Homo sapiens: one gene and its partner. The protein of the gene in region 1 interacts with the protein of each later gene in a biochemical or structural test. Each region holds a gene or a part of one and is shown on either strand. Other genes may lie near its edges.

Region 1 (4,493 bases):
AACTAAGGTAAGAGTCAGAATAGGGGGAGATGTTAAGAGATTTGAGGGGTCAGAAGGTATGAAACAGTCACTAGAAAAGAGGGCAAGTGAAAGGACTAGAGAGATGGCATATTTCTGGGTGGCATAAAGGACCCATTTTAGTGTCATGGTCGTAAGTTTGAAGTAAGATCAGTCAGCATGGCTATTTTTTACTAGCCCTTTCAGCTGCATGGGTCTAAAGTAGGTGATGAGTTGAATATGACAAAAGCAAAAGAGGGGAAGGGAAATGAGGTGGATTATGGGAATTTAGCTGAAGGAGGGAAATAAAAATACGTGGGGGATAAAATCTGCAGAAAGGAAGTATGATCAATGGACCGTAGGTCCTGGTGAAGGGATGAACTGTTGGATTTAGCATACTAAAGAAAATGAACTGGAAGAACAGGAGGTGGTGGTAGTCGAGAGTGGGACGTCTGAAACTGAGATGTGGAGGATCTGCAGCTCCAGAACATGACCAAGGAAATAAGTGGCTGAAGCGGGTGTTAGTATGATCTACCTGAATACTGAAATAAGATTTATGACAAACGTGGTGTTCGTATGGTAGTTTCTTTCAAAGCAGAAGGGTACTAGGGATGAGGGATAATGGTCTGGAAACAGTATGAGGACACGTGCACCACCTCCAGGCCCAGTGGGACACTGGGTGTGGAAGGGAAAATGCCACCACTACTGAGGTGGTAGGAGAAGCAGAGTCCTCATAAGAAACCAAGTCTGAAGAGCATAAATGTGAAGGGAACGTTCAGAGAAGAGGTTGAGGACACAGAGAATTTGACAAATGACTGGCCATCAGTTCCAGAGGGCACAGTGGAAGAGCTTCTAGAGTTGGAAAAGGTAGGTAGATGGAGACAAAACAGAGTGGAGATACATGGTTATTAAGTGTAAAAGATGAGATGACTCAGTAGTTTAGGACTAATTGTGATGATTGATATCAACATCAATAAGATTAAGGGTATGAGATTCGTTCTGTTGTTTGTGGTACGGAGGGATGTGCATCTGCGGGCATTCCTCAAGCCTGCCGATGGATGTGCATGTAGGAGAAAGTATACGGAGTAGAGGCAGTTTTAGAGTTACAAGTTAGACCAATCTCCAGGCTGTTTGTTTGTTTGTTTTTAAGAGACAAGGTTTTGTTCTGTCACTCAGGCTGGAATGCAGTGGCTCAATCACAGCTCACTGCAACCTCAAACTCCTGGGCTCAAGCTATCTTCCCGCCTCAGCCTCCCTTGGAGCTGGGACTACAGATGTGCGCCACCATGCCCAGATAATTTTTACATTTTTCAAATAGATGGTGTCTTGCTATTTGCCCAGGCTGGGCTCAAACTCCTGGGCTCAAGGGATCCTCCTGACTTGGCCTCCCACAGCACTGGGATAACAGGTGTGAGCCTCCAGGCTATTTTGAGAGAAGTCTTGCACACCTACTTCAAAGAATTTAAATGAGAGAATGAATGTAAAGCAGTTAGCACGGGACCCGATGCTATAATAATAGTTATGATACTACTATTGTTGCCAGGCACAATGGCATCCTTACTCAGGAGGCTGAGGTGGTAAGACTGCTTGAGCCCAGTTCGAGACCAGCCTGGGAAACACAGCAAGATTCCGTTTCTTAAAAAAAAAAAAAAAGATACCTCATTCTTGGTTCCACAGCAGCAAGCTCCAACAAGAATTTATCCAGCACCAAATCTACATTGGTCCTGAACAACACAATCCAATCACCAACATACAAAACCAAAAAACCAAAAATATTTTATTGCTGAGTCATCCTGGGGTTCCATAAAGGACCCCAAGCCTTGCTTGGAGTCTATAGCTTTGCTAGGACTCCCATGACATCAGGATAGAGATTGAGGCACGGGGTCCTTTGGGTTCCGATTAAGGAACTATCTACTCTGATTCTGTTGATCTTATTAGTCCCTCCAGGTCACCTCTACTTCATCTGTCCGATACCTGTGGAAAAACAGAAGAAACATGGTGGAGAGCGAGCCCTTAACATCCTTCATTCTTCTCTGCCCTCATGTTCCTGGACTCTTCCCTGCTGTTTTTGTCTATGTCCCAATAATCTACCCTCACCAAGAGGTGAATCACTCACCTCTGTGTAACCCCAGAATCACTGAGTGGGGTCCTGTGTCCAGCCCGAAACATCTCCCAGCCAGCCTGGGCTATCATCGCTCCATTGTCAATACAGAATCTGGGATGCAAGAGAGATGAAAATTGGGATCTAAGGGTGGAAAATCACTATAACAGGAGAAGTAAAAAAGAAACCAAAGGGAAAGTGTCTTTACCTCTCATCTGTAGCAAAAAGCCGGGCTCCACGTTCCTGGCACATTGTTGCCATCATCTCCTGTAGCCTCACATTACCTACAAAGAGGCAGGGAACAGGATTAGCTTAGTTTTAGCCATCTCTTCATGGTCCAGCAGAACACGTCATGTGCACTCACTTAGAACAATGACATAGGGGATTAGGGGCAAGGATTGGGAAGCCTACTCCAAACGCTTAATGATTTAGAGTACCAGGAGGAAGACGCATAGTGTTAAGAATAGGAAAGAGGAACACTTTTCAATAATACATACACCCCACTCCTCCCACAATGAGGGCCTCCTGGGAGCCACAATGTGCCATGGCTCGCTCTGTGATCTCTACCAGCATTGCAAACACAGTTTCCTGTCAGGGACAGATAAGGAGAAAATATTAGAGGGGCATCCCAGATTAGTTCTGCTCTACAATATAAAACCTTCAGCCCCAACTTTCTGTCCCAGTTTTTTACTGCATTACCTGCAGGGAGAAACACAGATCCTCAGGAGTACACTCGCCTGTGGCCAGCATCCGATGGGCTACATCCTACAATTAAAGGGAAAAACAAAAGAATCAACAAATCATGGTTTTGGGATTACACGAGAGCAAAAATTAATGCATTCGGAGGGTCATCATGTTTCACCACAATTCAAGTTACCAGCACATCCTGTACCACATTCCCTTCACTGGCATCATGGCATAGAATGAGCAGCTTTCATTTAAGATGCAATCATTACTTTTTGAATACTTGTCCTGACATCTCTCACCCCTTACTTATCCTGCTTAATTTTTCACCTGTACTCATCATCATCTGGCACTTCATTATTTTCCTCTTTCTTATCTCCCCCGCCCCCCATTTAGAATCTAAGCTCCATGTAGACAGGGATTTTTGTTTTGCTCCATGCTGCATCTCTACTATCTAGAACAGCATGTGGCACACAGAGATATTCAATGAATACCTTCTAAATGAATTTACCCAGCACATGATATGGACCAGTACTGTGCTACATGAATATACTGAGCTATACGAAATATAATCGTAAGTAAAACAGATATGCTTCATTTAAAAAGCATGAAAGTGCCCGTCTCATCACCTCTCACACTCACCTCAATGAAAGACAGGATCCCTGAGAATGAGACGTCCATCCCCTTTACAGTGTATGGCAGCTCAACTAGCTTCTTGCCTCTATGTGGGAATAAGCGTACGAGGCACTAAGCCTACAGTCAGCTGGCTTCTCACCCTCCAAAGCCCGTCCCAAATTTTGTTAATATATACCGTATATGGGGAAATCCCTGAAGCCCCAGCAGCCAGCCTGCTTCCACCTTATGTCCCCTTACCGCTTTGCCATCTGTTCAATGTTGTATCCTGGACTTGGGTCGTTAGAAATCTAGCAGAAGAAAAAAATAAGGAAGGAGGGAATGGAAGAGGATGAAATCAGATATGCAGGAAGCATAAGAAGCTCATTTACTATTTCCTCCCTCCACCTCCATGGCTTCCCAAAAATTCACCCACATTTTATGTTCTCTGCAGCCCCACTGGCTTACCTTCAGCACTCGAGCAAAACGATCCAGACAATTACCCACTGCAATATCGATGGTTTCCCCAAAGATACGGTAACGATGTTCCGAGTATGCAATCACCTAAGGGTGATGAGGAAGTCCATGAAACCCCAAGTCTGTAAAGAGGATTATTTGGCTTTGGGAGAAAAACATAGCAGAGGATCAACATGACCACCAGGGCTTCCAATAAGAAGTGGAAGAAAGGTGTTTCCCAAATGGTGAATGGGTAGTTTTTACAGCTCTGATTTGAGAAGAAATCTGTATACCCTGAGGATTCCAGGAACAGATTCCTAGACAGTGTAGGTTCAGGCAGAAATAAATTGTCATTTCAAATACATTGGTTTTCCGGCTTAGAAGTTCCTAATATATCCCTTAAATGCAGTCTTGATAGTAGGTAACCGGCTTTTCTGCTTGGAGGCAGAGAACATGAATCCTTCTAAATTATGACACAGTGGCAGTGGTAATTTTTTTTTGAGACAGGGTCTCGCTCTGTCTCCCAGGCTGGAGTGGAGTGGTGTGATCATAGCTCACTGTAGCCTCCACCTCCTAGGCTCAAAGGATCCTCCCACCTCAGCTTCCTGAGTAGCTGGGCTACCATGTGTGGCTTATTTTTATA
Region 2 (5,037 bases), on another chromosome or scaffold:
TCACAAATGCTAGTAATTTAATCCTCTATATATTCTTAAACTCTTCTTACAGTTAACAGTTCTCTGGGAACCAGAAATATTTGTGTTTGGATTATCTAATGCATCTTGATCCCACTTGAAACTTTGAAGGGAATACCATAGTTGTTTCTCTAATAAAACTATTTTTAAATGTGGCTAAATTTCTTGAGTACCCTATAGGATAGAGGCCCAGGATCATTCAATGTTAATGAAAACATGAGGGACTTTAATAGTAGAAGTGAAAGCAATTGATATGATTTTATAATGATTAGGAGATGAAGGGCGCCTCTTTGCGAGGAGATTGTCAAACAAAGCTGGAATTTAAGCCTGTATGCCTAGTGAGATTTCAGCACTTTGACTAATATTTGTATTAACCAAATCTGTCCTTGGCCAAATTTATCTTAAACTAGTACAAGCAAAAAATAATAATAATAATTTAGATTAAATTTATACCAATATTTTCCCTGAAAGCCCTAGACTCTAACACTTTCCTAGAAAGGTAAACATCTCTGCTTACCTTGTGGGTATGGGACAGTGAAAAGAGCACACTGCACATTGAGTGGATGGAGGGAAGAAGGATTGGCAAGAGCTTTAATGGCAAGAAGGAAGAACTCCACTGGGTACTGGCCTTGTAAGAGTGGCTAGAGGGCCTGTGCAGAATACTCTTCCCAAATCCTTAGACCAATTAATGAGTTTCCCCATCTCCTCTTCCCAGCTTCCCAGCTGTCTTAGACAGTTTCTGTCTTTCTCCCAGCATCTGTCATTTCCTCAATCTCTTTTAACCTCATTTTTATTCTCAATCTTTTTTCCGGATGTTGGTTTCTGTCCCCACCCTCTCTCCAAGTCTTTTTTCTAGCCCCACGCCTAACAAATATCTCCCATTTGCATAAAAATGAGACCACATGGAAAAATGAAAAACATGTTTTTTTGTTGATGTGTACTATGAGAAATAACTCTCATGACAGAGAATTGGCCTTTTACATGCAAAGTGGACACTTTCTAACATCCCTAACTGAAAAATCTCTAAAGGAAGTAAACATTAGGGAATAGAATAAAACATCTTGCTGCAGAAGAAGCGTATCTAGTGATAACAGGATGAAAATGAAGCAAGATAACTTCAGGCAAAATGTATAAGAATTGTTTGTTACACAAAGGTTATGGAACTGTAGATCTGGAAGAAATCTTTCATATCACTTGATTAAACCACACTCATTTTATAGACATGAAAATTAAAGCCTTGAGAGGTTAAAAATTTTGCCTGCCTCAGTCACACAGCAAGCATGTGGCCCCTGGTAACTAACCCAAGTGCTCTTGGCTCAAAGGTTCAGTGTACTCTTCACCACTTCAGTATGCTGGCTTGTCACACCAGTCAGGGCTCAATGGGAAAAATATAAGAAAGTTGTTATATTGCCAAATATATTCTTTTTTTTAGTGAAAGTACCCTTTCTTTTATGTAATATTCTAATGAATAGCATATGTATTATGGGGAAAGGATTCTGTATTTAACAAAGAACAAGGTGGTTTATCTCATGTCAATTGCACAAAGGGCGTTTGGATTATTTACTGATCTAGGAACAACTGAATTATGTGGTGCTTTTGCTTCTGCACAAGATTAGGATAAAGTTAATTACTCAACATACTGAATTAAGACTTCAGAGTTGGAAAGGCAAACTATGTAATCAAAGTGCCTTTACAATTGAATTTTCATAATTTTACAGTCTATCCTAGTGGGGGTGGGGACTAATCTGATCTAAATGGTTCAGAATTACCTGATGAATTACAGACCACTAATTTTTGTATATGTGAGCAAGTAATAGGAATGACTTGGCACTTGTGTTCAGATATTCATGACACTCTGGTATGATTTGAACAGTCACTATAATTCAAAGTTAAGTATTTTCTGCTATTTATACAATAGTAAGAGGGTAGGTCAACTTCATAAAGCAAATCAAATAAGTTTAGCCAACCAAACGAGTATTCCAAAATACACTTACTGCTTCCGCTCTACAGAGGCCAGGGATAAAAATAAATATTGCCCTCAAGTAACTGAAAACAAATCTAGGAATGCCTTGGGTATTTTCAACTCTTCTGACTTTTGAAGAAACAGAATTCTCCAAATTAAAGCAAGGGCTAGCTACGAAATATCACCTATGTGCCCAAAAATAGGTCTTGGGAAACACACACAAAAATAGTCACTTAGAAATTGTCCTTGCTTCCTATATACAGTTAAGTTGTAACAAAACCTAATAATAGATGTCTAAATGATTTTTTCTTCTCCTTTGTATACCTTAAGAATTTTAAACTTTAATTGATATAAAACTTGTACCCAACAAATGAGGCTGTCAAAAAATGAAAAGGAAAGAGAAAAAATAAAAAGTTCACTGATCACATCATTTAATTATTCTAATCCCAATAATGCAATTAGTTAATAAATCTTTAAGTTAGTTCACTCTGTGCATTTAAAAAAGGTGAGTCCCACTTTTAAAAACTGGGTTTGCAGAGAGAGATAATTGGAGAATTCTCATGGTTGTTTAGAGTTGTCACAATGGCTTTGAGCTCATTAATGTAGGAGTGGCCTTTGTATCCTGGGGAGAGTGCCCAAGAACTCAACGCTTATGTTCTCACACTTGCTGAACACCCTAGGAGGGCGATTTCACAGTTCATACCACAAAAAAGTATTTCTTTTCCCACTTCAGTTAAAAATAAATTCAATGTGTGATACAAATGGTTTTCCGTGTTTTGTGTGTGTGATTTTTATAACTGAAGCATTATTTCAACACATGGCCATTTGGATGTGAACAGCCATAAAAATTATGTAAAGGTATTATGGCTAAAATAGAAATGATACAATGGCAGTTAAAGGCCCAACTAGTAAGGGAAAATTCTGAAATTTATGGAACGGTTTCCTATTTCTCTCTTGATTCTGTGAGTTAATGTTAACTTATACAATAATAGCTAATGTTTTAGTAATTTATGATGTGCACAGTATCTAAAATGGGTATTCCCATTGTCATGTAACACCAATACCATGTCAATATGTATCTTTCTTCTCATTTTTTACATGCAGAAACTGGGATTAAGAAAGATTTAATGTCTGGGCCAATTTGAACATACTTAGAAGCTAGACTCAAACTTAAGTTTTCACATTAATACCGTGTTTCCTTCCACTAACATATTCAACCTCTCAGATTAAGCAACACTCAATACTTTATGAGAGTAGTAACAATATTTGAGGATGTTGACTATTTTCAGACTAAAAAGAGTTTTAATTAAATACAAACACAATTTTGCTTATTAATTTGAGTGATTAGTTTATAGATGAAGGTAAATAACATAAATCTGAAAGATATTTGAGAAAATACACCTGTTTGCATATAATGTATAAAATTGTGCCTGCATATATTGTAATTAAAATATTACTTGGCAGTCATCTTACAACAGTTCTATTGTGAAAAATTTTCAGATGCTCATTTTTCACTTTGCGAGAATTAACATTGTAATTGTTTAAATATTTTCTGCTTCTGGATTGGAATCAACTTAGAAATAAAATATTTCATCTACGGTGCAGGATATGAGTTCCATTAACTCAGCAAAACTTTATATAACATTTATCTCATATCAGACGCTATTCTGGGTGCTTTCTGCATATTACCTTGTGTGATTCTTCCAATATCCCTATGAGGTAATTCCTTGTAGAGATATTGCAAGAACCACATAAGGCAATCATCTCCATTTTACAGCTGAGGAAGCCAAAAGTTGAGTAACTTGTCCAAGTTTATACAGCTAGTAAGTGGCAGAGCTGGAACTTGAACTCAGACAATCTGTCTCCAGAAGCATTATAAACGTGACACCAAGTGATTAATTCACTGATAGCTATTTCCTCTTTGTTTCTTTCCTTCTTCTCCAAGTCCCATATTAGCTTCACTGACATTTATAGCCAAGTACATGTTTTTTTCAACAAACATAACAATGACTGGTAGGCAAATGCCTACAACTCCTTCCAACCCATCCCCTAAGAATTAATTGAATCCAGAATATTAAGAAAACATTATTGCTAGGTAAAAATTCATTTATGGCATTATAGTCTTAGTTGTCAGTTTAGAAGGCTGAAGTTGCTGTGAGGCGGAGTAGTGACTTCTAAATTACTCGAGCGGTAAGTCTTTATCCTTATTCTTTTTCAGAAAACTCAACTTACTGAAGTGTCACTACATCAGAAGGTAGCTGAAGAGCAACAGTCCTTGCTTTGATTTTAAGCCACACCAGCCTTGTGTAACTTTATACTATTTCCAAGCATCTGTTTCTTAATCAGTAAGATGGGATAAAGCTGGCCTTGAAATTTGTGATGGAAGTAATGTGTGTAAAGTGCCTGGCACAATAAATGGTAGATGTTAGTAGATGTTGTGACAATACTTCTTTGGGTTAACTTGGACCGTTCCCAACTGTGATCTCCATTCTCTAGTCTTTGACACAACTAATACAGGTTTCAGCTAGAGTATGACTGATTCAATGGATTTAAAAAAACAGTTCACATTTCAGTTGAGAAGTACAGAAAGAATAAAATCAATGACATCAACATTTTTTACTACTAACCTCACAGTATAATTCATTACTGCAAACAGGCAAATAATTGCCTTAGAACAGAATCTGTTTAGAATATTGTTAAGCTTATGTAACAAAAGATTGATCAAAGATATTTCATTTTCTTTGAAATGAAAAGGAAGAAGGGTAGTACATATTAATGAGAGTGTCAGAGAAACCAAAACTAATCTTTACTTAGATATACACTACCATCTAAACTAAAATGTTCTCATCAAGAAAAATAATAAATCCTGGGTTTTCCTAAATAGCAGAGCCTGAAACAAGGGCTTCTGTTCAGACAGTTTATAAAAAAAAAAATAGGAAGAGGAGAAAAGGACTAAAACAATGAAACTGGAGCAGGAATATAAGAGAAAAGCATTTATGTATTCAGTGACTCCATTCCCTCTTTTGTCAGGAGCTGTCTCATAGAATGCTAATGCT

Evidence for each region. Proteins that work in one complex are often made in the same cells at the same time.
Region 2: of the proteins of OSGEP (region 1) and EMCN, one has a biochemical effect on the other in vitro, tested with the Homo sapiens proteins (one study listed by BioGRID).

The regions. Positions count from the first base shown.
Region 1 is NC_000014.9:20,445,309-20,449,801, forward strand, and holds the end of OSGEP (tRNA N6-adenosine threonylcarbamoyltransferase), read right to left. Parts: intron 3,959-4,493; coding exon 3,863-3,958; intron 3,706-3,862; coding exon 3,656-3,705; intron 3,504-3,655; coding exon 3,425-3,503; intron 2,864-3,424; coding exon 2,798-2,863; intron 2,687-2,797; coding exon 2,596-2,686; intron 2,383-2,595; coding exon 2,307-2,382; intron 2,213-2,306; coding exon 2,114-2,212; intron 1,972-2,113; coding exon 1,932-1,971; 3' UTR 1,093-1,931; downstream 1-1,092. UniProt on the Homo sapiens protein: Component of the EKC/KEOPS complex that is required for the formation of a threonylcarbamoyl group on adenosine at position 37 (t(6)A37) in tRNAs that read codons beginning with adenine.
Region 2 is NC_000004.12:100,506,934-100,511,970, forward strand, and holds part of EMCN (endomucin isoform 1 precursor), read right to left. Parts: intron 4,410-5,037; exon of another isoform or gene 4,200-4,409; intron 1-4,199. UniProt on the Homo sapiens protein: Endothelial sialomucin, also called endomucin or mucin-like sialoglycoprotein, which interferes with the assembly of focal adhesion complexes and inhibits interaction between cells and the extracellular matrix.